Linked DNA regions of Homo sapiens: region 1 is linked to region 2. The links come from fine-mapping of genetic effects on plasma protein levels. A gene starts in region 2. The other region holds a variant in brackets. All regions are shown on one strand. Distances are from middle to middle.

The links. A credible set is the group of variants that fine-mapping cannot tell apart. PIP is the chance, under the fine-mapping model, that this variant and not a neighbour inherited with it causes the effect. Protein levels are from antibody-based Olink assays in UK Biobank. Linkage for the fine-mapping came from a reference panel and not from the study's own genotypes, which makes the PIPs less certain.
Region 1: its variant is the best candidate, but not a certain one, in a credible set for the plasma level of the NOS1 protein (UK Biobank, PIP 0.67).

The regions. Positions count from the first base shown.
Region 1 is chr12:117,253,822-117,261,821 of GRCh38, reverse strand. NOS1 (nitric oxide synthase 1) reads left to right here. Exons shown (of 29, transcript NM_000620.5): 14 at 1,213-1,357; 15 at 2,692-2,796; 16 at 3,367-3,425. Among named protein-coding and RNA genes, the nearest start is that of FBXO21, 67 kb to the right of the region's middle. The variant T/C (reference allele first, on the strand shown) is at 4,033.
Region 2 is chr12:117,353,818-117,370,395 of GRCh38, reverse strand. NOS1 (nitric oxide synthase 1) reads left to right here and starts at 8,770. Exons shown (of 29, transcript NM_000620.5): 1 at 8,770-8,884. RefSeq lists promoters at 7,724-8,645, 8,812-8,884, 9,109-9,269, 6,992-9,269.

The DNA.
Region 1 (8,000 bases), 100 kb after region 2:
TTAAAATTCATAACTTCTTTTATTTCTTTTTTGTAGAGACAAAGTCTCACTCTGTTGACCAAGCTGGTTTCAAACCCTTGGCCTCAAGTGATCCTCCCGCCTCAGCCTCCCAAAGTGCCAGGATCACAGGCATGAGCCACTATGCCCATCCCATAACTTCTTTTGATAGATATTTATTTAGTGCCTGTTGGGTATCAGGCTCTGTGCAAGACCCTTGACATGCATTGCTGAATAAATCAGACCTGGTCCTTCCCTTGTGGACCAATAAACCTCTAAATCCCATCAAACTCAATGCCTGGTGACTAATTCGTGATTCATTTCTCTCTCTCTTTCTCTCATTCACACATGTGCATACACACACACATTAGAATATGAGCCCTATGACAGCTGCATTCCATAGCTATGTTCTCTGTGGTCTCCATTTCCTATAACAATACTGACACATAGTTAAGCACTTAATAAATATTTGATGAATGAAAGAGAGAGGAAATGGATGAACGATCATCTTTTGAGGCAATGCTTGGCAAACCAAGGTTCTTAAGCCTGGGATCAATCAAGTAACAAGCTAACAAAACTAACTACTCCTTTTAATTCATGACTAATTGCTCTGGTGGGATTTTTTTTTTTTTTTTTTTTTTTTTTTGAGGCAGAGTCTCACTCTGTCGCCCAGGCTGGAGTGCAGTGGTGCCCAGTGGTGCGATCTCGGCTCACTGCAACCTCCACCTCCTGGGTTCAAGCAATTCTCTTGCCTTAGCCTCCCAAGTAGCTGGGACTACAGGCGCACGCTGCCACTCCCGGCTAATTTTTTTGTATTTTAGTAGAGACGGAGTTTCACCTTGTTGCCCAGGCTGGTGGCAAATTCCTGAGCTCAGGCAATCCACCTGCCTCGGCCTCCCAAAGTGCTGGGATTATAAGCATGAGCTACCACACCCGGCCTCTGGTGGGATTTAATAAAGGATTTAATATCCAGCATTATCTCTAGAGAAGTTAAAAAATAAAATAAAATAAAGGATTTAATAATACTTTAATAATACGGTGCTTAAACACAAAGACTTCAAGTGCCTCTGAGGAAACCCCTGAAGCCATCAAAGATCAAGAGAGTTCTCTTCTGTTATATTTCATGGATCCTGGTTCTTGCACGAAAGTCCCAATCCAGCATCTTCTCTCCCCTTTTCTGTTGCCCATTTTTCATCTCCATCCTCTTCCCTCCAGAGCTGTCAAGTTCTCGGCCAAGCTGATGGGGCAGGCTATGGCCAAGAGGGTGAAAGCGACCATCCTCTATGCCACAGAGACAGGCAAATCGCAAGCTTATGCCAAGACCTTGTGTGAGATCTTCAAACACGCCTTTGATGCCAAGGTAGGTGGGGGGTAGCCCTAGCTCCACCAGCTTCTCATGGTGAATTAAGGCAGGAAGGGGAGAGAGGGAAGTCAACAGAGAAGAAGCCTTTGGCAAAGGATGAAAGCACACCTGACAGGGCCTATCAGCTCACATACACATTTGCATAAATTTCAGGGGACTGTGATATCCCTGTCCCCATGAGTCCAGGAGTCACAAAATGAAATTCCCCTCTTTAGAGCAAAATGTTAGAGGGTTTATAAGAAACCATTCTGAGGTCAGTTTGGGAAGCTTTGCCTGAAGTACAGCTCGATGGTTTTTTGGTTTTGTTTTTTTGTTTTTTTGTTTTTTGTTTTTTTTTTTTTTTGAGAAGGAGTTTCACTCTGTCACCCAGGCTGGAGTGCAGTGGCGCGATCTCGGCTCACTGCAAGCTCCACCTCCCGGGTTCACGCCATTCTTCTGCCTCAGCCTCCCGAGTAGCTGGGACTGCAGGCGCCCACCACCACGTTCGGCTAATTTTTTGTGTTTTTAGTAGAGACGGGGCTTCACTGTGTTAGCCAGGATGGTCTCGATCTCCTGACCTCTTGATTCGCCCGCCTCGGCCTCCCAAAGTGCTGGGATTACAGGCGTGAGCCACCGCACCCGGCCAGCTCGATGGTTTTCATTGCTGTGGCAGGACTTCCCAGAGCCTGTAATCTATAAGCATGTGTTCTAATCTCCAAAAGAGGCGAGGATAGAATATAGACGTTTCCCAAACATGTTTGATCGTGGATCGCTTGTTTTCATGGAGCATCTCAGGAGACTGGGATTTTCTAGAACCTATTTTGAGAAATGTTGCTCAGACGATGATGAGACACAGGGCAATCATCTTTCCAGAAGGCAGATATCTCAGACTTGTTTGGCCAGGTGCTCCACACTGCTCGGGGGAGGATTAGAGAGGAGGTTGAGAAGACTTAGTCAGCTCTAGCCAGATCATTCCCGGCCTAACTGGGGTCAGGAAGAATCCAAGACCAATTGACTATAAGAATCCCATGGGATTCCATCAAGCTGTGTTTCTAGTATCTGCCAATCCCTTGAACCATTGCTTCAGATTCTCCACAACCCTTCAGGCCACAGTGACCATAGCAAGGTCCCACGCTACCAAAAAGCGTTTAGTTCTACCCACTTGAGCCCACTGAAGTACTAACACCTCAGATCTTTTGGTTCTCCTTCCAAAGGAGATGACCCAAAATGACTCACATTTTTCCTTTCTCTCCTCTTGCCCTTCCCCCATCACTTTTTGTCTCTCCCACCTCTTTTCTCTCCTCATCCCCTTCTTCCTCTCCCCATCCTATACCTGTGCCCTGCCCACCTAGGTGATGTCCATGGAAGAATATGACATTGTGCACCTGGAACATGAAACTCTGGTCCTTGTGGTCACCAGCACCTTTGGCAATGGAGATCCCCCTGAGAATGGGGAGGTGAGATGAGCTTTTACCTGTTCAAGAGTGTGGTTCCATCATCAGGAAGAAGTAGGGGCCAAGGTTGAGACTCTTCCTACACCTGCTATTCAGTAGCAAACCCTCCCAGAGCCTGAAAGCCAGTAATTTCCATTTGGATCCAAGTTATACAAAGGTTGGACAATTCCAAGTACTCAGTCTACTGGCGTCCATTAGTTAGCAAGTCCCTGGTGAAAATATTGTCACCTAAGTGAGCTATTTGTTTGCAGTGGCTGCTCCTATCATTAGCTTGATGTTCCCTGATGTAGATGAGGAACATGGGGACAATATTTTTATAGAAGGAAGGCTCCAACGGGAAGTTGTGTGCTGGGGGTAGGGAGTCCACACCTGTAGTCATTTAAACAGCAGGTGTATCCACTGCGTCTGTAGCCCAGGCATTACTGTCCAGCCTGAGCCCCTGACCGCTCCTGACATCCTGGCCTCCGGGCATCAGTCTCCTCTTTGACAGCCAGGACCCCAGACCCTCAGTATCCGACCTGATTTCCCATTTACTAAGATGTGCTAATTTCACCCATATGTTTTGGCTTCCAGAAATTCGGCTGTGCTTTGATGGAAATGAGGCACCCCAACTCTGTGCAGGAAGAAAGGAAGTAAGTGAATGACCCCTCCGACGTCACCCGCCACCCCCGAGGGTAACTGGACATTGACTTTTGGCACCTGGGGTTCACATTTGAGTTCTGGATGGTGGCTGTAATCTGAAGTCCATTTGTAATGGGTCTTAGTTGTGAGGTGTCTGCAGTCTACTGGGGCAAATATTTTGGTATCTGGGTCACTTCACAGCCTTGTGCCTCAGTTTCCTTTTCTATCAAATAGAGATTATAGCACCTACCTTGACTTTCTAATTAGTAAGAATCAAATCACAAACTAGATGTAAAAGCACTGTGTGCTGGGCGTGGTGGCTCACGCCTGTAATCCCGGCACTTTGGGAGGCCGAGGCAGATGGATCACAAGGTCAGGAGTTCGAGACCAGCCTGGCCAACATGGTGAAACCCCATCTCTACTAATAATACAAAAATTAGGCGGGCGTGGTGGCGCATGTATGTAATCCCAGCTACTCGGGAGGCTGAGGCGGGAGAATCGCTTGAACCTGGGAGGAGGAGGTTGCAGTGAGCCAAGATCGCACCATTGCACTCCAGCCTGGGCAACAAGAGCAAAACTCCATCTCAAAAAAAAAAAAAAAAAAGCACTGTGTAAATA[T/C]TATTCTTTTTCCCTCTTTGAGAACCTACATTCAAAATCAGTGCAAGGCAGTCAGGCATGGTAGTGCACACCTATAGTCTCAGCTACTCTGGAGGCTGAGCCAGAAGGATCACTTGGCCCCAGGAATTTGAGGCCAGCCTGAACAGCCAGACCTGTCAAAAAAAAAAAAAAAAAAAAAAAAAGCTAAAATCAAAGAATGGAACTTCTTTCCTTAAAAGCTTCCTGTCTGATGCTCACAGTGAAGTTGCAGCTAATCTAGAAGTTGAGTTCAAAAGATAAGATACCTTGTAAGACAAAACATACCTGTAGTCAAAAATATGTTTGTAATGGAACCGCATCTAATGTGGGATTGAGTTCTAAAGGTATTTGGTAAAGTAAAAAAGCATCTAATCAAACTTACCATTGATGGCTGGGCACGGTGGCTCATGCCTATAATCCTAGTGCTTTGGGAGGCTGAGGCAGGAGGATTGCTTGAGGCCAGGAGTTCAAACCAGCCTGGGCAATATAGCAAGATCCCATCTCTACAAAAAAATTAAAAATTAGCTGGGCATGGTAGTGTGCACCTGAAGTCCCAGCTACTCCAGAGGCTGAGGCAGGAGGATCACTTGAGCTCAGGGGCTTGAGGCTACAGTGAGCCATAATTATACCACGGCACCCCAGCCTAGACAACAGAGCAAGACCCTGTCTCTAAAAAATAAAAATAAAAAAATTTTTTTTGAGATGAAGTTTCGCTGTTATCACCAAGGCTGGAGTGCAATGGCACGATCTCAGCTCACTGCAACCTCCGCCTCCTGGGTTCAAGCGACTCTGCAGCCTCAGCCTCCCGAGTAGGTGGGATTACAGGCACACACCACCATGCCTGGCTAATTTTTGTATTTTTAGTAGAGACAGGCTTTCACCATGTTTGCCAGGCTGGTCTCGAACTCCTGACCTCAGGTGATCTGCCTGCCTCAGCCTCCCAAAGTGCTGGGATTACAGGCCTGAGCCACCGCACCATGACAAAAAAATTTTTGTTAATGACCCTTGAAAAGCCCTTGCATCCCCCATAAGGTATAGGACACATGGTGTGTGCACGCTGAGCTGCCTTTCCATGAGGCCAACTCAGTATTTGCTCCAGCATGGAGCAAGCAGATCCCTGTGTCTTAAGGTGAACATCAAATGCTCTAGCTGGCTGGTGTTTTTTGGCTGTGTTAAGCAGAAAATCCCTTCTGAGGCCAGACACAGTGGCTCATGCCTGTAATCCCAGCATTTTGGGAGGCTGAGGCGAGAGGATCACCTAAGGTCAGGAGTTCGAGACCAGCCTGGCCAACATGGTGAAACCCGTCTCTACTAAAAACATAAAAATTAGCTGGCCATGGTGGAGTGCACCTGTAATCCCAGCTACTCAGGAGGCTGAGGCAGGAGAATCACTTGAGCCTGGGAGGCAGATGTTGCGGTGAGCCGAGATTGCGCTACTGCACTCCAGGTTGGGTGACAGAGTGAGACTCCGTCTCAAAAAAAAAAAACAGAAAATCCCTTCTGATTTTCTTTGTGCAGAGAACATGCTGCCGTATTCACATAAGTTTGATACCCAGGAGACTGACCGTTGCTGAGTCCTTTGTGGTCAGCCCTCGTTCTACGCCCAACTCCAGCATCTTAGTCCTCACTCTCCTTACCTCTCTCCTTCCCACCCCATCCTAGATGGCCTCCCAGCAGGTTCCCTCTCACCCCTCCTTCAGGGAGAGATAGGGCACCATCGATTCTCCCCTCTAGGTACCCGGAACCCTTGCGTTTCTTTCCCCGTAAAGGGCCTCCCCTCCCCAATGGTGACACAGAAGTCCACGGTCTGGCTGCAGCCCGTGACAGCCAGCACAGGTAGAGTGTGCATGTGTGTACACGCAGGTGTGTGCGAGTGTATGCATGCACACCCAATGCCTGAGCATCCCAGGCCACACATCTAGGTCTCAAGGAGATCCGAGTTCTAACCTGAGCTGTGTCACTAACTCACTAAGTGACCTTGAGCAAGTCGCTTAACCCCTGTGGGCCTTGGTCTTTCTCATCTGCCGAATGGGGAGAAATTAGCTCTGCCCTACCCACTTCTGTGGCCTATTGGCAGGGTCAAAGGGTAATAACAAAAAGGAAAGCATTTGAAAAAACCTCCAACCTCATACAAATGCACGTGCTGTTATTTTTACCCACAACCATCAACCATTCCTCCCACACTAACAACACAGCCACCCCCTGATATATTGCATGACTCAATGTGAGACTATTTTAGGGCAGAAAATACACTTACATATATTTAGAACTTTCCTGATGCTGGAGCGAAAACTTTAAAGAACATCCAGCTTAGAAACCCTGCTGCTAGAATGCACAATTTCTTTTCTTCTTTTTCTCTCTTTTTTTAATTTTCTCATTTCTTTTTAATTTTTTGTAATTAGATTTGTGTGTTGGGTTTGCTTCTTGAGTTTTGGGTTTTGTTTTGGAGTTTTGGTTGCTTGTTTGTTTGGTCTCAGATTTTTTGTTTGTTTCTGTTTGCTTTGTTTTGTTTTGCCTTGCCTGAGAGCACAACTTACCATTTTTGGAGGAAAACGGAGAAATTGGATTTTTTTTAATATCAAGGTTCCTGAGCCTCTCATGCTGAGATTTGAGTCCCAAAGACATCTTCCTTCACCTTCCAAATAATTTATTTTTTTAATTTTATTATTATTATACTCTAAGTTTTAGGGTACATGTGCACAATGTGCAGGTTAGTTACATATGTATACATGTGCCATGCTGGTGTGCTGCACCCATTAACTCGTCATTTAGCATTAGGTATTAATTTAAAAAATGCAGTCTCTTTCCATGCCAGGCGTCAGTGCTGAACATTGTTCATATTTACTTGAAATGTGAAATTTGATAGAGCCCTGAAATGTCTAAGGACCATAACTTTATGGAAGGACAGTATTGAATGGGATACTCCAGCACTGTCCAGAAGAACTTTCTAGAGAGATGTAAATGTTCTATATCTGTGCTGTCCACTATAGCAGCCACTAACCAAACGTGGCTCCGGAGCCCCTGAAATGTGGCTGGTGCAAGTGACACCCTGCTATGACCCAGTGGTTCTCAAAGCTGAATGCACATCAGAATCACCTAGGGAGGTTTGCAGTGTACCAACCACATTGACTTGTATTTAACTCAAATTAATTTAACTTTAGATAGCCACACTTAGCCAATGGCTGCCATCTTGGACAGCATGGTCTAGTTTCTAGCTACTTAAAATGAAGTCTGGAGACACTGGCATCTCCTGGGAGCTCGTTAGAAATGCAGAACCCCAAGCCAGGTCCCAGAACTACTTAATCAGAATCTGCATTTTAATGAAATCCCAGGATGATTCTTGTACACATTAAAATTTGAGAAACAGCCAGGTGCAGTGGCTCACACCTGTAATCCCAGCACTTTGGGAGGCCGAGGCAGGTGGATCACCTAAGGTCAGGAGTTTGAGACCAGCCTGGCAAATGTGGTGAAACCCCGTCTCTACTAAAAATGCAAAATTAGCTGAGCATGTTGGCACATGCCTGTAATCCCAGCTACTTGGGAGGCTGAAGCAGGAGAATCACTTGAACCCAGGAGGCAGAGGTTGCAGTGAGACGAGGCCGTGCCATTGCACTCCAGCCCAGGCGACAAGAGTGAAACTCTGTCTCAAAAAAAAATTTTTTTTTTTTTTAGAAACAAGGGAGCATGGTCTCATGGTTTAGGGGAGTAGTTAGTTCTGTTCCTGACTTCTTACTGATTAAATCATTTTAACTTTATGGGTCTCAGGTTTCCTGAGTTAAGCATGGCCAGAAACCTTTTTAGTACCAGTTAAGACCAAGTGCAGATGAACAGTTACCACTGTGGTGGACAAGGGTAAGTTGGTAGATTATAGAAGAGGCCATGGGAGTGTTATGGTTTGACTCAACATACAAGAGAAGGCCCTAGAATCAGGACTGGTCACTTGAAGATCC
Region 2 (16,578 bases):
TGGATGGAGGGATGGATGGATGGATGGATGGATGGACGGACGGACGGACGGACGGACGGACGGACGGACGGACGGACGGACGGACGGATGGACGGACGGATGGACAGATGGATGGATGGAGGGATGGAGGGATGGATGGATAGATGGATGTATGGATGGATGGATTGGTGGATGAACTTCTGGGTTGGTGGATGGATAGACGGATGGATTGTTGGACAGACAGATGGGTTGGTGGCTCGTTGTCTGGCTGGATAAATGGATGGATGGGTGGGTGGATGGATGGATGGATGGATGGATGGATGGATGGATGGAAGAATGGATGGATGGATGGATGGATGGATGGATGGATGGATGGATGGGTCAGTGGGTGGCTGAATGGATAAGTGGGTAGATGAGTAGGAGGATGAAAAATTGTGAGGAAGTCCTTTTTAAGCTGTGTTCCTGGAAGTCCTAAGTGCTCCAGGGGCTCCCCGAAGGAGGACAGGGCAGTCAAGAATCTTGCCCCCTGCTTCATGATTCCTCAATAGCTCCCCTTTCACCTATTTTATATACTGGCTTCTGCATACAATCCCATTAGAATTTTTTTAATGCCCCAGCTAAAACAAGTTTGAAAATTATTGATATAGATAACTGATTCCCAAATTTGAAAATGCACCAGAATCACTGGAGTCTTCTCGAAATGCAGATTGCCAGGCCCCATGCCCAGGGCTGCTGATTCACTAGGTCTAGAGTGGGTTCATAAAATTTGCATTTCTAGCAAGTTCCCAGGTGATGCTGGTCTGGGGAAAACACTTTGAGAGCCACTGGTCTAGAGAAATTGTCCAATTCCTCCATGCAATTGAATTCAGTAACTGAATGCCTGGGATGTACTGGCAAACTGCTAGGCATACTAGAGAACGTCAGAATAGATTCGGACATGGCTCCTACCCCTCAAAAGGCTCCTAATCTCAAAACAGAGGCCGGACCCTCACACTAGTAATAACAGGAGGAGAAGGAGCTACCATTTGTTGTGCAGGTACTACGTGCCAAATACTGTGCTAAGGGCTTCAAATCCACTATCTCATTTAATCAGCACAATCCTATGAAGTAGGGATTATCATTTTCCCCAGTTTTGCCAGATGAGAAAGCTGAGGCTCAGAAAGGGTAATTAACTTGCCTAAGATTGCACAGCTAGGAAGTAGCAAAGCCCAGGACTGACTCCAAAGCTTTCATATCACGCCCGATCATTGCACCCTCCCCTCTTCCACACAATTAGAGAAGAGTCTAAGACAGTTTGCTCGCATGTCTGTTTGAATAAATCAAATGTCAAAGCATATGAAGCTAACAGAGCTCTAGGCTGTCAGGCTGTGGAGAAGAAAATGGGTTCTCTCATTAAGGCTTTAAAACTCAGGGTGAGGCCAGCAGGATCCCTTTCCATGGTTCTGGGCAGTGTAGGCTGCAAAGCGTCAGCACACTAGCAGGCTTGGTTGTTACGGCCTATGGACTGTGAGCTCATCTGACTTCCCCATTGGCACTGAGTGCTTCATGAGCCAGAAGCCTGCCTGGGGGTCTTGGTTGCCCCAGCCCCCTGGCATAGTGCCAGGCATGTGGACCACCAGAAAGAGGGGAAAGAGAATGATTATATGTATGCTAGAAGATGCCAGGCCAATAGCTCTCAATGAAAGCTGAATGAAGAAGCCAGATACACAGACAGATTAAAAACAGAACAGCTCTGAGTGAGCTCAGAGCTCAGCTCCCCAACCTTCCCCCTTGACCTGCATGACAGGCAGACCCCAAGACACTGCTGGAGAGCCCAAGGTGGTCCTAGAACAGAGGAAGAAGCTATGCTCCAGTCTACCACTTCTTAATTTTATACATGGTGAAGTTAAGGCCCAGAGGGAGGAGGGGACTTGCCCAAGGTCACACAGCAGATGGAGGCTAGAGTCAAATAAAGAAGTCAGATACCCTGGCCCTGGTTTGGGAGCTTTCCAGAACACTTACCTCTTCCTCTTTCAACCACCTCCCCATTATCCTCCCCTAGGGACTGGTCTCAGAATTTGCCTAATTCTTAGAAATAAGTCAACCCATGTCATCTTTTTTGCACATGTCTGTGATATGGTGGGGAGGGCAGAATTGTAAGAGATCTCTGCTTTCATCTTGAGGGGATGTCACTGGTGCTGAGAAGCTCTGTCATTGAACTCCAGTTATCTGCTGAGCAAGGGTAAGGACCCAGTCCAGCACACTGGGGTGGCCTTACCAGCTCAGGGTAGCCAACTTAGAACCAGAAGACAACCTGCCTCAGTTTCCCCTGGAGAGCTTATTAAAAATACAGCCTCTTGGGTACCACCCAAGAGCTATAGACTCCCAGTCTTTGAGGGCAGGGTCAAGGAGCTGGTGTTCCCCTTCTCAGGGAATTCTTATACATCTGAGAGTTTGGGAGTCACTATTTTACATTCTGATTAAGACCTTCTTTGCCACTCAGACAGCTCCACTAACCAGGCTGAAACCCATTTCCTTGGTCAGAGCTCCTATACTAGTGGCCCAAGTGATTTAGTTGGATGGAACGCTATTTTGGAAACATCTGAATGTGAATGTCTTTAGGAGGGGCATGTGCTCCAGTTAGCCACAGGCTCCACTACTCCCTGATGTCTCCCACCCAGCCCACTTCATGTTCCCTGGAAGTATGTACATTTGCAACACCGGTTAGCACTGGCTTCTCTCTAACAGTGCCTTCAAAATGCAAATACTTTGACCAGCCCTTCATACCCCAGTGCAATTTAGACCATCAGAACTCCAGGCTTAGAGAATTTTTGCAATGTGTTGCCTTTAATTGGGGCGAGATGACCAGGGAATTCTGTAATGAGGGTGAAGGGAATAACCGAAGGACTCAATTGAGGGTATGAAGAACAAACTTAGGACTCCTCTCAATGTTTTACTTGGTCCTCTGGTGTGCTTGCAACCCCCACCCCGTTTCCTGCCTATGCCCTCACATTCTTTTTAATGCCTTCTCTATGTGGACAGATGCTGGGAACTAGGAGATGCAGACAGTTTCTGGGGTGATCCAGCATTCTCAACCCACCCAGGTCAGCCCAGCTTAGCGGGGACCTAGGTTCTGGTCCTGAAAGCTGAATATAGGAAGCCATGGACCTACCTGGCTGGTCTCCGGGAAAACAGGAAGGCTACAGCGAAGGTTTAGCGCGCCATCTGTTGGTCATTTAGGAAACTGCATCTCTGACAAACGGTCTGCATAGAGCTTCAGGCATCTGCAAATTTGCCAGCCGGCTCTCAGGCAAGAAATTGTTTTTAACCTTTCCAAGGTCTCACACCCTTTAAAAAGCCGCTGCACACTTATGAACCTTCTACCCCAGCAAAACGCACTTGCAATTGATTTTGCATATAATTCCAGGGACTTGGCCATCTTCAGGTTAAGATCTTCTGAGACCCAGAGATGCCAAGGAGTTTCCTTGAGCTCACATTGCACATTAGTGGAAGTGCCAGGTCTGGAAAGCAGGTGTTCCAGCCACAAATCTAGTGTTTTTAATGCTCAGGCTGCCTCTTTAAGCCTTAAAGTGTTCTTCCCTCTTTATTCTCTGCCAGAGTCCTGTAAATATCTGGAGGAGTCTTTGACATGCCCAGAAACTATAATGCTCCTACCTCTCCTGGGGGTTCTGGGCTCTCAGACAACCCTGTTCGCTGTTCATTTTTCCTGGGTCCTACAGAAGCATGCCCCCGGCCACTTTAGTGACACCCACTTTGCTCTTAGGAGGCTCAGACCCTGCATCCTGAACTGGGAGTTAGGACAGGAAACTGATCTGTCACTGATAGGCTGCTGCCCCTGGATGAATTGTCAAACCTTCCTGGATCTTGGCCTCCCCAGTGTAAAACGCTAGGTTGGAGGCAGCCATCTCCAAGGGCCCTTCCTTACTCTAACTGCAGAACTGACCAATGGGTGCCATCCTTCACAACAAGCAGGTCCAAATCACTTTCCCAGCCAAATACCCAGAGACAGGGTCAAAAGCATAATTCCTTTCCAGAATCAGAAGCCCTGGGTGGACGGGGCTGCTTAAGGGAGAGAGGGGACCTACGCACCATGGGAACAGGAAGGACACAGAGGAGGCACCCCATGGGTCTTCCAACACCTCCAACGGGCCAGCAAGGCAGGACAATGAGGCAGACCAAGGGGCATTTCTTGGGGATGAAGTAGTGTGGGAAATGGTAAGTGATGGATAAAGGGATGGCTTGGTAGGTTCAAGGGCATAATGCAGAGGACTAGGTATATAGTTGGTGTCTAATAAGGGAGACATTGTCATCACATAGCTGAACCCCAGCTTAATAGTAAACTCTTCTTCTACTTATTTAAACAAACATTTGTTCGGTTTTTGGTGGGAACAGAGGTTCTCAAACTTGAGCATGCATCAGAATTACCTGGCTGGCTTGTTTAAAATGCAGATTGCAGGGCCCCACCCTGAGGGTCTAATTCAGGTGGTCTGAGGTGGGGACTTGGAATCAGCATCACTAGCAAGTTCTCAGGTGATGCTGACCTCATCATTCAGGGAACACGCTTTGAGAACCACTGCCTTGGAGTGACGGATGAGACAGACCACCCTGCCCTCATGAGGGCATTGAACAAGTAAATATCACAGAACTTGTATGTTCTGAAGAGGGACATGCAGAGTGCTTGGGGCTGCTCCCAAGTGGGGGAGTTCGCGCTAAGACTTGAAGGCCGAGTAGAGCCAGCCCAGGAAGAGGGATGAAAATTTTGTGAAACACTTACTTAGAATGTGCCAGGCTCTCTCTCATATCGTTCATCTGCTCCTCCCAGTCAATGTCAGGAAGGTAGGATTAACGCCCATTTTACAGATGAGGAAGGTGAGGCTGAGAGAGAGAAATAACTGGCCCCAGAACTCATGGCAAGAAAGAAGCCCAGGTCTGTTTGTGCACAGGACACCTACCAGCAGCCACATCCCCTCTGCTGCACCCCCAGGAACCCCCTTCTTCCCAGGGGAGCTGCCACCTGGACACAGCTGCCGGACCCGGCCAGCCACACTCTGTCCATTTCCGCCCCCTGAAGCGCTTCAAGTGTTTTCACTGCTGGGTGAATTCAGCAGATGCCTTTCGATCACAGCCTATTAAATTAGCCCCTCTCTGCAGCCAAAAGAAGATAATTATGTTTTCATTAGCCCTGGATAATGTATTACCCCCTCAGTGACAGCCACGTCAGTGAGGCCAGCCTCCTCCCTTCCTCCTCCTGCCCAGGGCTCCGCCAGAGCACTCCACTCCCCTGGGGTCCACCTCTGCACTGAGGGGTGGGCACCAGTGAGGGTCCAGAGTGGCTGGGAGGCTGGGGGGGAAGGGACACCCTTTACACCCATCCACCATCCATGCAGGGGTTGAGGGGTGTGGTCCTGAGAGAAGGACCAAGAATAATTGTTATCACGGTGACCATTTATGAAGTGCCTGCCCTACGCTGATGCCTGGATGGGTCTCAGCTGGTTTGATCTTCCAATAGCTCGAGAGAAGGGTGGCACAACCCTCATCTCCCCCTGAACCCCAGAGAGGTCCTGGTGGAATCAGGTTATTGTGACAGCCCAGAGCAGCTTCCAAGGCACTACACCCAAGGGGCATTTTGGGGACTGTCCCAAGGCCACCTGGTTGATGGTAAAAGTCTCTTCCCTCCACTTGCTGGGGATCTCTGGAGACACTGTCCGTACTCATGTGGTAGGGGTCCCCAAACACCAGGAGCCACTCTCCCCAAACCCTAGACACTCCCCAGATGGCTCTGACATCCTCCCTCTCCCTCTTTCTCCACAAGACAGCGGCGAGGAGGCAGGAAAAGCTCCACTTTGGGGTCCCGAGTTCTAATATCTGCTTTACCACAGATTACCTGGGTGACCTGGAGCAAGTCACTTTGCCTCCAGAGCCTCTATTTTCTCCCTCTGTAAAATGGGAATAAGAAAGGGAGTCATTTCTTACCATTTTTATGATGGTTCAGTGAGTTATACCTATTAAATGCGTGGCTCAAAACCAGCAAAATGGGAAGTGCTCAACAGAAGATGGCCATTGTTCTCTTTACTACCGCAACTAGTGTTGTCCATAGTTCCCGTTAATCCTGGGGAAACCACCAGAGGGAGGGAAGGGAAGTATCTGGCTCTGTCTGTCACTGTCCGTCTTTCTCTGTATCTCTGTCTCTCTTTCCTGTCTCTGCCATTCTCTCTCTGCCAATCTCTCTCTCTCTCTGCCAATCTCTCTGCCAATCTACCAATCTCTCTCTGCCTCTCTCTCTTCTCTTACTCTGTCTCTCTTTTTCTCTCTGCCAATATGTCTCTCTGTGTATTTTTTCTTTCTGTCTCTGCCAATCTGTCTCTCTCTCTCTGCAAATCCCTCTGCCTCTCTCTTCTCTTACTCTCTTTCTGCCAATCTGTCTCCCTCTGTTTTCTCTGTCTTTCTCTCTGTCTCTGCCAATAAGTCTCTGTCTTCCTGTCAATCTCTCCGTCTCTCTCTTTTTCTGTGTGTTTTTTCTATCTCCGTCTCTGCCAATCTCTCTCTCTCTGCCAGTCTTTCTGTGTGTTTTTCTATCTCTGTCTCTCACTGTCTCTGCCAGTCTCTGCTGTCTCTGTCTCTCTCTTTGTCTATAAATCTCTCTGCCTCTCTCTCTTCTCTGACTCTCTCTGTTTGTGTGTGTGTGTGTGTGTCTGTCTGTCTGTCTTCGTCTCTCATCTACACACACACACAGAGGGCACCTCATGGTCCCTGGCTCCACCCGTGGGCTCTGAGGCTCTGTCTTCCCAGATCTCTGTCTCAAGAGCTACATTCTAAGGCTTTGCTTTTAATCGCACCAGGGCACCTGGAAGTGAGGAGAGAACTGAGGGGAGTGGGGTTTCTGTCCCCCTCTCCCCAAACCCAAGCCAACTCTGCCTTCTGCAGGCACAGCCAGCCTTGGCCCGACCCCACTATCTCCACCATCTCGTGGCCGTGCATCCCCTCCCAACCACCCTTCTCCCCAATTTCAAAAAAGCTTGTGCTCCCAGAGAGGAAGTGCCCCTACTCTGAGCTTCTTTTGGCCTTGACCCACACATAGGCAGACGTGGACTCTGTTTTGAGCAGGTGAACCGCCAGCCCAGTGGAAGAGCAGCTTCCCTTCCCCTAGCTTCCTGATTTTCCCCAGTTGCCATGGTAATTGAGGGAGCAGTGTTCTGAGAATGACACCACTGAAACCCAGCGCTCAACTTTGAAATGGTTCGGGCAAGGGACGCTGGACCCAAAACAGGAGGGGACCAGACTGCAAGGACTCAGCTCCAGCCTCAATTTTCTGGGACCCACCCCCCATCCAGCCTGTATGCTGGATTATTCTCATCATCATCAAAATCACCATTATTGTTGGCAACTGTTTCCTGAGCATTTACTATATGTCTAGCACCATGTCAAGGGCTTCACCAGCATCATCTCATTGTGTATATCCTCACGACATCCCCAGGCCCATCCATGGCTCAGGAAACAGGCTCTGAAACTTGCCCTTGTGGCAGCCAGGAAGTGGCAGAGCCCTGGGGCTGGTGGCATTTCTCCAGGCCTCCTTCCAGCATGTGGAAGACAGCATAGACCTCCAGGCACCCTCGTCAGCTTATTCTTTATTCCTTCCTCCCCTCCTCATCCCCCACACCCTTCTTCCTGCCCCCAAAGTCACACACCCCCTCCCCTGCTGGATGTGCAAGACGATCTGAAAAGCATTTATTAGTGACAAAGGGGGTGGTGGTTTTCCTCTTTGCCTCTTCTCTGCGCAACTCGAAGCCTGAGTGGGTTTGCTCCGCTTGGCAAGGCTGGGGAGGAGGAAAAGATCAAATCACCCAGAGCCAGGTGCCAAGTGTGTGTGTGTGTGTGTTTGTGTGTGTGTATGTGCGCGTGTGCGCGTGCGCGTGTGTGTGTCCTCTCTTTCCTTGATTTTCCCCCGTTTTCCCAAGACTGTGTGAGCAGCAGCAACAGCAACGGGGAGATGCAAAATCCTTTGCAATCTGCCCAGGAAAAGACAGATTTTGAGTCGGGTTTATATGGTTACCCATATGTTAGGGCCCCTAAGAAAGGAAGGGAAGCTGCGTTCTCTGTGTCTTCCCTCCTCCAGCCCAGACCTTGGCCTCTCCACACCTGTGGGGCTCCCAGGCCACAGATGAACATGTGCCCTCCATCCTTCACTCTCCCCAGATGCCAGGCCTGAGTGTGGCTCCAGAAAAGACCAGAACCAGGCAACATTTCCTGAACAGGCTGCTTTTCTCCGTCTGTCCACCCGAGAGCCAAGGCCAGAACCCAGGCTGCAACCTCTGCGGGCTCCTGGGAGGGGCTCCCAGCACTGCCCAGCCTGGGAGGCTGTGTGTTCCACTGTCCCATTAAGGAATGCTATCCCAACACTGATGTAGAGGCAGAAATAACCATCCCTGCCTCCCATGGGGCCTTCTCTGCCCAAATAGACCTGCCCTGCCCTGCGTGGCTACTACATTCAGCCCTATCCAGGCTCCCAGAAATTGTCATTGTGTGTGTGTGTGTGTGTGTGTGTGTGTGTGTATGTGTGTGTGTGTGTGTGTGTGTGTGTTTCCTGATAGAAAAAAAAAAATGGAAATTAGGTTATATAAAAGATGTATGCTTTGGAGCCCAGAGCGGCTCTTTTAATGAGGGTTGCGACGTCTCCCTCCCCACACCCATAAACCAGTCGGGTTGGACGTCACTGCTAATTCGTTTCAGTGATGATAGGATAAAGGAGGGACATTAAGAAATAAATTCCCCCTCACGACCCTCGCTGAGCTCACGGCTCAGTCCCTACATATTTATGCCGCGTTTCCAGCCGCTGGGTGAGGAGCTACTTAGCGCCGCGGCTCCTCCGAGGGGCGGCCGGGCAGCGAGCAGCGGCCGAGCGGACGGGGTGAGCCAGGGGCGCGCGCGGGGCGCCCAGCACTGCGCCGGGGAAGCCCGCAGCCTCCGTCCCGAACTTGGGTTCGCTGAGGCTGAGGGAGGGGACGCAAGGGGAGGGAAGAAGAGAAGGGAGGAGTGGGGGCTAGGGGAGAGGGGGTGGGGAGGGATCTTGGAGGCACAAAGCGGAGGGGAAGGGGAGGGACGCGCGCGGCTCCTACCAGGAGGCGAGTGGGTGCAACCGGCGCCCTCCAGCCGCGCGGGGCGGCGGACTCGGAGGATTCAGAACCCGGAGCGCGGCGGCCGCGGGCGCCCGGGAGGAAGAGGAGGAGTACGAGGCGGGCGGGCGGGTGCGCAGCGCGAAGAGGCAGCCTCGGCGCTGCCCGGCTCGGCGTCAGGTGAGTTCCTGATCCAGGCGTCCCGCGCCCCTTCTCCGTCCCCAGGGCTCCCCGCTCCCGCCCGAGCCCCTGGTGTGCGCGGAAGGCTCGGGCTTTGCTGCGCGTCCCAACTTGGTTCGGGCGGCCTCATTTTCCTCCTAGCGGGCGGCCTCAGGCCGGGGGCTCCGGTCCGGGGGTCTACGCGCCCAGGCTCCAACTTTGCAAGACCCTAGTCGTTCCTCAGCCGCGCGCTTGGCTCCGAGCTGTGCGCTGGCGGTAATGGCGGAGCCCTTGGCACAGCTCGCTACCCTCCCGCGGGCAGCCCGGGCTGGGGGATGCCAGTCCCTGGGGACCGTTGTACCTGCCCAAGCTCAACTTTACGCCTTCCTCGGTGCCCGACTCTGCGGCCGAATCGCAACTGCGAGCCGCAGGTAATGGCGGAGTCTTTGGCACTGCCAGCTGTCCGCGGCTGGGGGCCCGAGGCTGGGAGGGCTCCGCTCCCGGAACATCGCTCCGGCCTGGCCTCCAACTTTGCGAGGAGCCTCCTTGCGCTCTCCTCCCGCGGTCATGGCGGGGCCGCCCGCACCTCTCACTTCTTCCGTCTGGGCGAGATTGGGGTGTAAGAGCGCCGTCTCCAAAACCTGGGAAAGTTGTGCTTCTCCCGCAAAGGAGGCTCTAGGGAGGCCGAGGGGCGCGTTCCGCCACGGTTCGGGGCTGGGCAGTGGAAGGAGCGCTCGATGAGGTTGCTTCCAGGTGGCCAGGGTTCGGAGCAGGGTCCCCGGGGGATCCAACTTCCAGGGCCACTCAGGGGCCTTGCGTCCGAGGTCCCGGAAGGGGCTCTCTCGGGACTGCGCCCCAGAGGACGCCAGACGCTCGCCCCCACCCCCAGGGCACTGTGACCAGAGAGCTCATGGCTCTCCAAGCTCCGCATCAGGCTGTCTGGGGTAGACATCTAGAGAGGAGAGGCTCTCACGGAGAAGGCAGCCGAGGAGGGCAGGAACCTTTCCAGTGACTCCCCTGGGTTCTGGTCCTAGATCGACCCTTTACTTGTTGCGTGACCTTCGGTAAGTCTCTTCATCTTTCCCAGCCTCAGTTTCTCATCTGTAAAATGGAGAAACTACCTTTTTCGTGGGGCTGTCATGAGGACCTTAAAAAATCATAAATGTGAATATGAAGTCAGGGTAAGCGTTCATAACGCAGGAAGTGTTGCTGATATATATATATATATATATATATATATATATATATATATATATATATATATATATATAAAACCATTATTGTAATGCTCTGGGACCGGATCTGGGAGACTCGCACGCAGGTCTAGGGTTTCCCCACCAGTAGGAACCGGGGGGTCTACCCCACAGGGTACTACAGGCTGCGGAAGATTGCTCTCGCCTCCATCTCTACCCCAGTAATCCTGGGAAAGACGCATGGGATTCTTCCCTCTACTCCCATAGCCCAGCTCAAACCCTGCGCTCAGGCCTAAGAAAAGCGCGCACGCAGCCACCACGGAGGGAGGGTCCCCAGGGACGCCGCTAGGCAAGGGTGCGGTGCAGGCGAGCGCGCCCATAGGCGCCTCATCTCACCTCTGGCGGCCCACGACATTGGGAGACAGCAGAAAGGAGACCCCAGACCTCTCCTCCCGAGAGGAATGAGGGAAAATTGCTGCCTTTCTTTAGTGCTTCTCTAATTGGGGTCGGGGCAAACGCAAGAAATTCGTAAACACCAGGGAACACTGACGCAGCTCTCTGGAGCATAGATTTTTTCCCCCGTTATTTTTTCAGAACTGAAGATAAAATAGGAAAAGGGCTCTTGTGGCAGCTCCCCAAGTGCGCAGGGGTCGCGTCCATTCTCCGCCCTCAAGGCATCTCAGCGGATGGTTTGAGAAGCCTCGGCAGGTCCCTGAAGGAGGGGGTGTCCGCCCCACCAGCACCGCCACGGCGGGCCCCGGCCCCTTTCCACTAGTCTGGATTTCAGAAGCGCCCTGAGGGGCGCACGGCTCTGCCACTGACAGCTCCAAGGCACTGTCACACGTATTATTCACCTGGAGCCTCTTAACTTTCAGGTTGCCAGTGCAGCCATCTGAATTCCATTTTGCAGCTGCGGAAATTGAGGTGGGGCAAACCAAACTACCTAGCCATAGTCACCTAGCTGGTAAGTGGCACTACCCGAGACCTCAACCCCAATTTTCGGCTTCTTAATTGGGGCATTTTGCATGCATCTGGGCATCTACGCAGTCTGGCATGTGCCTGAACCTTAGCACACACAGCTGTATTTCCTGATACATCTGTTCAGCCAGAGGCCAACGCTATGGTCAGGGGCATGGCTTTGTCTCCACAAATTGTGTGATTTTTTTCCCCAAAGTCCCAAATCATGTAGAGAAAGAGTGAGCAGTGTGGTAGAGAGACCTGGTGAAGACCTCAGCTTGAGGCCAAGCTTAGCTCACTCCATGGCTGTGTGACCTCAGGTTGATCACTTAACCTTTCTGAGCTTCAGTTCTGTTATCTGTAAAATGAGAACAGTAACTCCCACACGGGGCTGTTTTGAAGACTCTGTGATGATGTATGTGAAAGGGGTTCTGGAAACAATGCTGGTATGCCAAGACTGGTGATTGTAAGGAAGGAAGGGAACCCGAAACAGAGGGAAGAGTGTCCCATGGAGCCATTTGGGGCCAATAGTGTCATCGTGGCTTTCAGAGCAGCCCGCTTTTTGCCCTTTCTGTCTCCTCTTTATATTTCCCAAATGGCCAAAGCCAGTCCCCAGGAGCCTCCATCTTCCTTGGGGAAGGACCGCACGGAGAAGAGTGAGAGGGCGGGGGTATTGTGATGGGTTAGGCTGCTCCCAGTGGGTCTCTGTGAGTAAGATGCAAAGAGTTGTCCGAGGTACCATTCAGTCAGTTGTCCAGAAACTTCCCCACTGGGGGGCCGCTGATTTCCCAGGAGGCAGGAAGATTTGGAGGTCAATTCGCCTGCATATTGTGAGCACAGACAGGTTTGGCTGTGCCTGTTGCGCTCACAATCTGCAGATGTTTTGGGGTGTCTTATGACAAGACTTCATGTGTTGCCTGTCACTCAGGTTCTGTGGGTCTGTGCGGGGCTTGGAATGTGGTTAAGAGCCACAGGCAACAATCCGTGCTCGTGAGAACTGGGGCTTTTTCCCATTAGAAACTGGAATTTGTGGAAGTTGAATTTGGCATTTCAGGACCCATTTTAATCTGGATTGTTTGAACAGAGGGGCATGTTTCCTGCCATGGATCAGTGTGGGTTTGTGTAGTTAACACCACATAGGTTACAGACATGACCATTTTCCTCGTTCTAATATATGATAACATTTAAACATCATCTAATCCAGCGAACGCCAAACATCAGCCCAGTGGACCTTTAGTGTCAGAATACAGCAAGTCCCTGGTTAAAAGCAAAGATGCCAGACCCCACCCTAAATCTACCGAATCAGCATTCCTGGGGGAGACTGGAAATATCTCTATTTTTAACAAGGTTGCTCCAGGAGATTCTAATACTCTCAGTTCTTGTCTGTCACCCTCGTTGTACAAATTGGGAAACTGAGGCCCAGAAGAGGCATGTGACTCGATGAAAGTCACACAGCACATTACTGCCAAAGCTGGGATAGAACCTCAGTGTCTTGACTTATTGTCCAATCCTCATCGATGATAACTTCATGTTTCCTTCAGTACAAGCCCCGTAAATGCCGGACTTTAAAGAAATTTAATTTCATCTTTCTGGTTGTTATTCTAAATTAGACCAACTGCTCAGAGGAGACTGAAAATAATTCCTCCCACCTTGACCTTGCTGGGTGTCAGCCCTGAGTTCCCATCTAATCTTGGACATTAGCCCCACTATTTGATCTCTCCCTTTCAGAGGGAAGGGGCTTCGACCTCCTGGGCTCAAATGATCATCTCTCCTCAGCCTCCCGAGTAGCTGGGACTACAGGCCTGTGCCACCACACCAGGCTAATTTTTGTATTTTTTGTAGAGACGGGGTTTTGTCATGCTGCCCAGGCCAGACTCAAACTCCTGGGCTCAAGCCATCTGCCTGCCTTGGCCTCCTTAAGTCCTGGGATTGCAGGTGTGAGCCACCACGCCAGGCCTAGAAAAATTCCTTTTATAAGTGACCTATCAGGTATAACTTCTGCAAAGAAGTAATCACAGAGCTAATAAACCCAGTTTAACTACCACTGATTTCACCAAAGCCATTGGTTTGAGTTCATTTCCACAGCCCATCGGCCTTCCACTCAGCCTTTGCAAGTGTGTTTATGTTGCTCACATGCCCATTCTTAAGGTGGAAGAATGATGAGCAGCACCTGGCAATGCTGGAAAATTGAGCCCATTCGAATCTTTTAAATGAAAATGACGTGTCAACAGAAAGTGCCCCTAAGTCTCTAATTCAAGTATGGTTAACAGGGTATAGTGGACATGGGTCTTGGCACAGTCGTATGATGCTAAGGATGAACAGCAGTTATCGTGGGCTGTTCGGCAGCAGACGTCAGCACATTTATTGTATGTGTCATGACACGTGTTAAATGGCAAGGCCAGTGCTAGACCCCAAGGGCAGGTGCCCAGATAAAGGTGGTGTGAGCCCCATTCTAATGAAACCTGTAGTCTGGCTAAGCGGTGAGCACCAGACAAACCCTGTACCTGGCGTGAAGTTTCTGCAAGAGAGGTGGAGGTGAGGTGCTGTGGTAGGACCCAGGACAGGTGGTTGAAGGAATCAGGGAGGACTTCTCAGAGGAGGTAGCATCAAAGCCCATAGCCTGATTTGTGGCACCCTCTCAGGGTTGGGGTCCCCAGTGCCAAACTGGGCCAGCAGCAGCCAGGTTGAAAGGGAGGGCCTCACACTGAGAATCATCTTAGGAAACGTCAGAGGCCAGCTTGGGCACTTGTGGATTCTGTGACTCAGAGTGAGAGAATTAACATCTCTGACTCTCCAGCATGTCATTCATACAGCAGAGATTATAAGTACTACAGGGAGTTGTTAGGAGGATTTAATGGGATAGTGTGTGTGTTTAACTCTGGAAAGGAAACAGCATCCAGCCCATCTCAGTGATCATAACAAAGAAAAGAAATTTTAAAAAGAGCCAGCCAGACACAGTGGCTCACGCCTGTAATCCCAACACTTTGGGAGACTGAGGCAGGAGGATTGTTTGAGCTCAGCGTTTGAGCCCAGCCTGGGAAACAGAGTGAGACTCCATCTCTACAAAAAAATTAGCCAGGTGTGGTGGCGTGCACCTGTGGTCCCAGCTGCTCAGCAGGCTGAGGTGGGAGGATAGCTTGAGCCCAGGATGCGGAGGTTGCAGTGAGCCGAGATTGTGCCGCTGCACTCCATCCTGGGTAACAGAGCCAGAACCTGTCTCGAAAATACATAAATTAATTCATTAATTAATTTTTTTAAATAAAAAAGAGTTAGCCAGTTGGTGTAGTCTGAGCCCCTTTCTCTTGCTCAGCCTCTGTTTTCTTATCTGTGAAATGGAGTTGGAACTAAAGGGCATCTCCCTTCAGAGACCTGCAGATATGTTCTGTTAGTCTGGCAGAGGGCTTTTTTTTGTTCTCTGTTTGTTTGGATTGGGGGCATTGTTTTGTTGGGTTTTGTTTGGAGAGTATTTTTTTTCCTTTAGGTCACCAGCCTCACCATTCAATATTGTTTAATTTGCTTGTCCGGGCCCTTCGAGGCATTTTAGTTTACAACCCCAGGACGCACTTCCCACAAAGACCTTTTCAGCTTTAACATCTTCTGCCTTACCTGAGAGCAACATTGGCCCAATTATCATCCATCAATTGCATTTATGATTTCTGCTGACATTTCCTAAGAGAAAGGTGGCCCTATTCAGGTGGAAAATACAGAAGTCCTTTGCAAGGGGCAAAGTTCCCATTTCCAGCCTGGGCATTTCCCACCTCTTATTTGTATGTCCTGTTACCTACTAAGACTGGGATTTCCTGGGAATGATGAGCCTTTTCTTTTTGACCATCCAAGATGCTTTGGGAGCCTACAGATTTTCAGAGGTGCCCTGAAAAGCATTTCAGCTTCTGCTGGGAACATTTGCCCACTGGCATTAAATAATACTCGAGAATCTCTTCTTTATTCAAAACCTGACAGCTAAATTTTGCTACCATGAGGATTAAAAAGGTGAGCCTTTCTGAAACCCATTTCCAGTTGGAAATGAAGAAGGAATATTGTGAATTCAAAAAGCTTACGCAACTTCAGATAGTATCCGTGTACAACCGTCGTTTCCCAGCTAAAGCATTTCTTGTCATAAACGAGAGTGAAGTTAACCACTTCTTCATTTAACAAACACAACCTGAGCTCCCAGCTCTGTGCCAGTCCCCACAAGAGAGGCTTCCTCATAAAGAAAGGGAAGACAGAGTCCCTACCCTCAAGGTAGCTCATGGTGTCCAAAACAGGCATCCACTCACCAATAACTAGATGTAGTGAGGTAAATGATGTGGGCAGTCCATCCTATTTAGTCACTAAAACAGCCACATGGATCACATTGGGCTCTATGTCATTTCCAGGAATTTTCAGCATAAAAAAAAAGTAACCTCCGGGGATAAATCAGAATAGTACTCGATAGCAACTGACATATTTTGGGCATATTTTTCTCTTTAATTTTTTTGAAGCAGTATCTCAGCTCTGGAATACTCAGTAAGAAAAATGAAAGCCAGTTATGTTCATGTGCCAGAAAACAGGTAATGAACACAGTCAATAGCATCGATGTGCTTGTTTGTTATAAGTCTTAGCTGGCAATACCTTCAGTTATCATTTTGCTTCTAATATCATGGTAGTCACTGAAATGGAATCTCTTTCTTTCTCCCAAAGCATGGTATAAAATAATGGGACTGGGTGGGTTTCTTGGCTTGATATTTTTATTGATTTTGATGATTTTTGTAACAAACATGCCAAACTCATATACGTAGATAAATATTTTCGCTTCCAGCTGCCGGCAAGGTGTAGGATTTCTTGAGGGTCCCTTCTTCAAGACTTGCCTTCAGAAAGCATGATATCTCTTTCTGAATCTCCCTACTAGTGATATCTTATTGGGCTTTTGAGGATGCAGTTGAATTTCAGAAACAGCAAGAAGTCATTGAGAGCCACATATTTTTTTGGCTAAAATGGGTGATGACCTTGGATGAAATGCAGAGATTTGGTTTTTGTTTGTTTGTTTCATTGGTTTTTTCATTGTTGTTTTGTTTTGCTTTTGTAGAGGTGGATTCTCACCATGTTGCCCAGGCTGGTCTTGAACTCCTGGGCTCAAATGATCCTCCTGCCTCAGCGTCCCAAAGTGCTGGGATTACAGGCCTGAGCCCAGCCCAAAATGT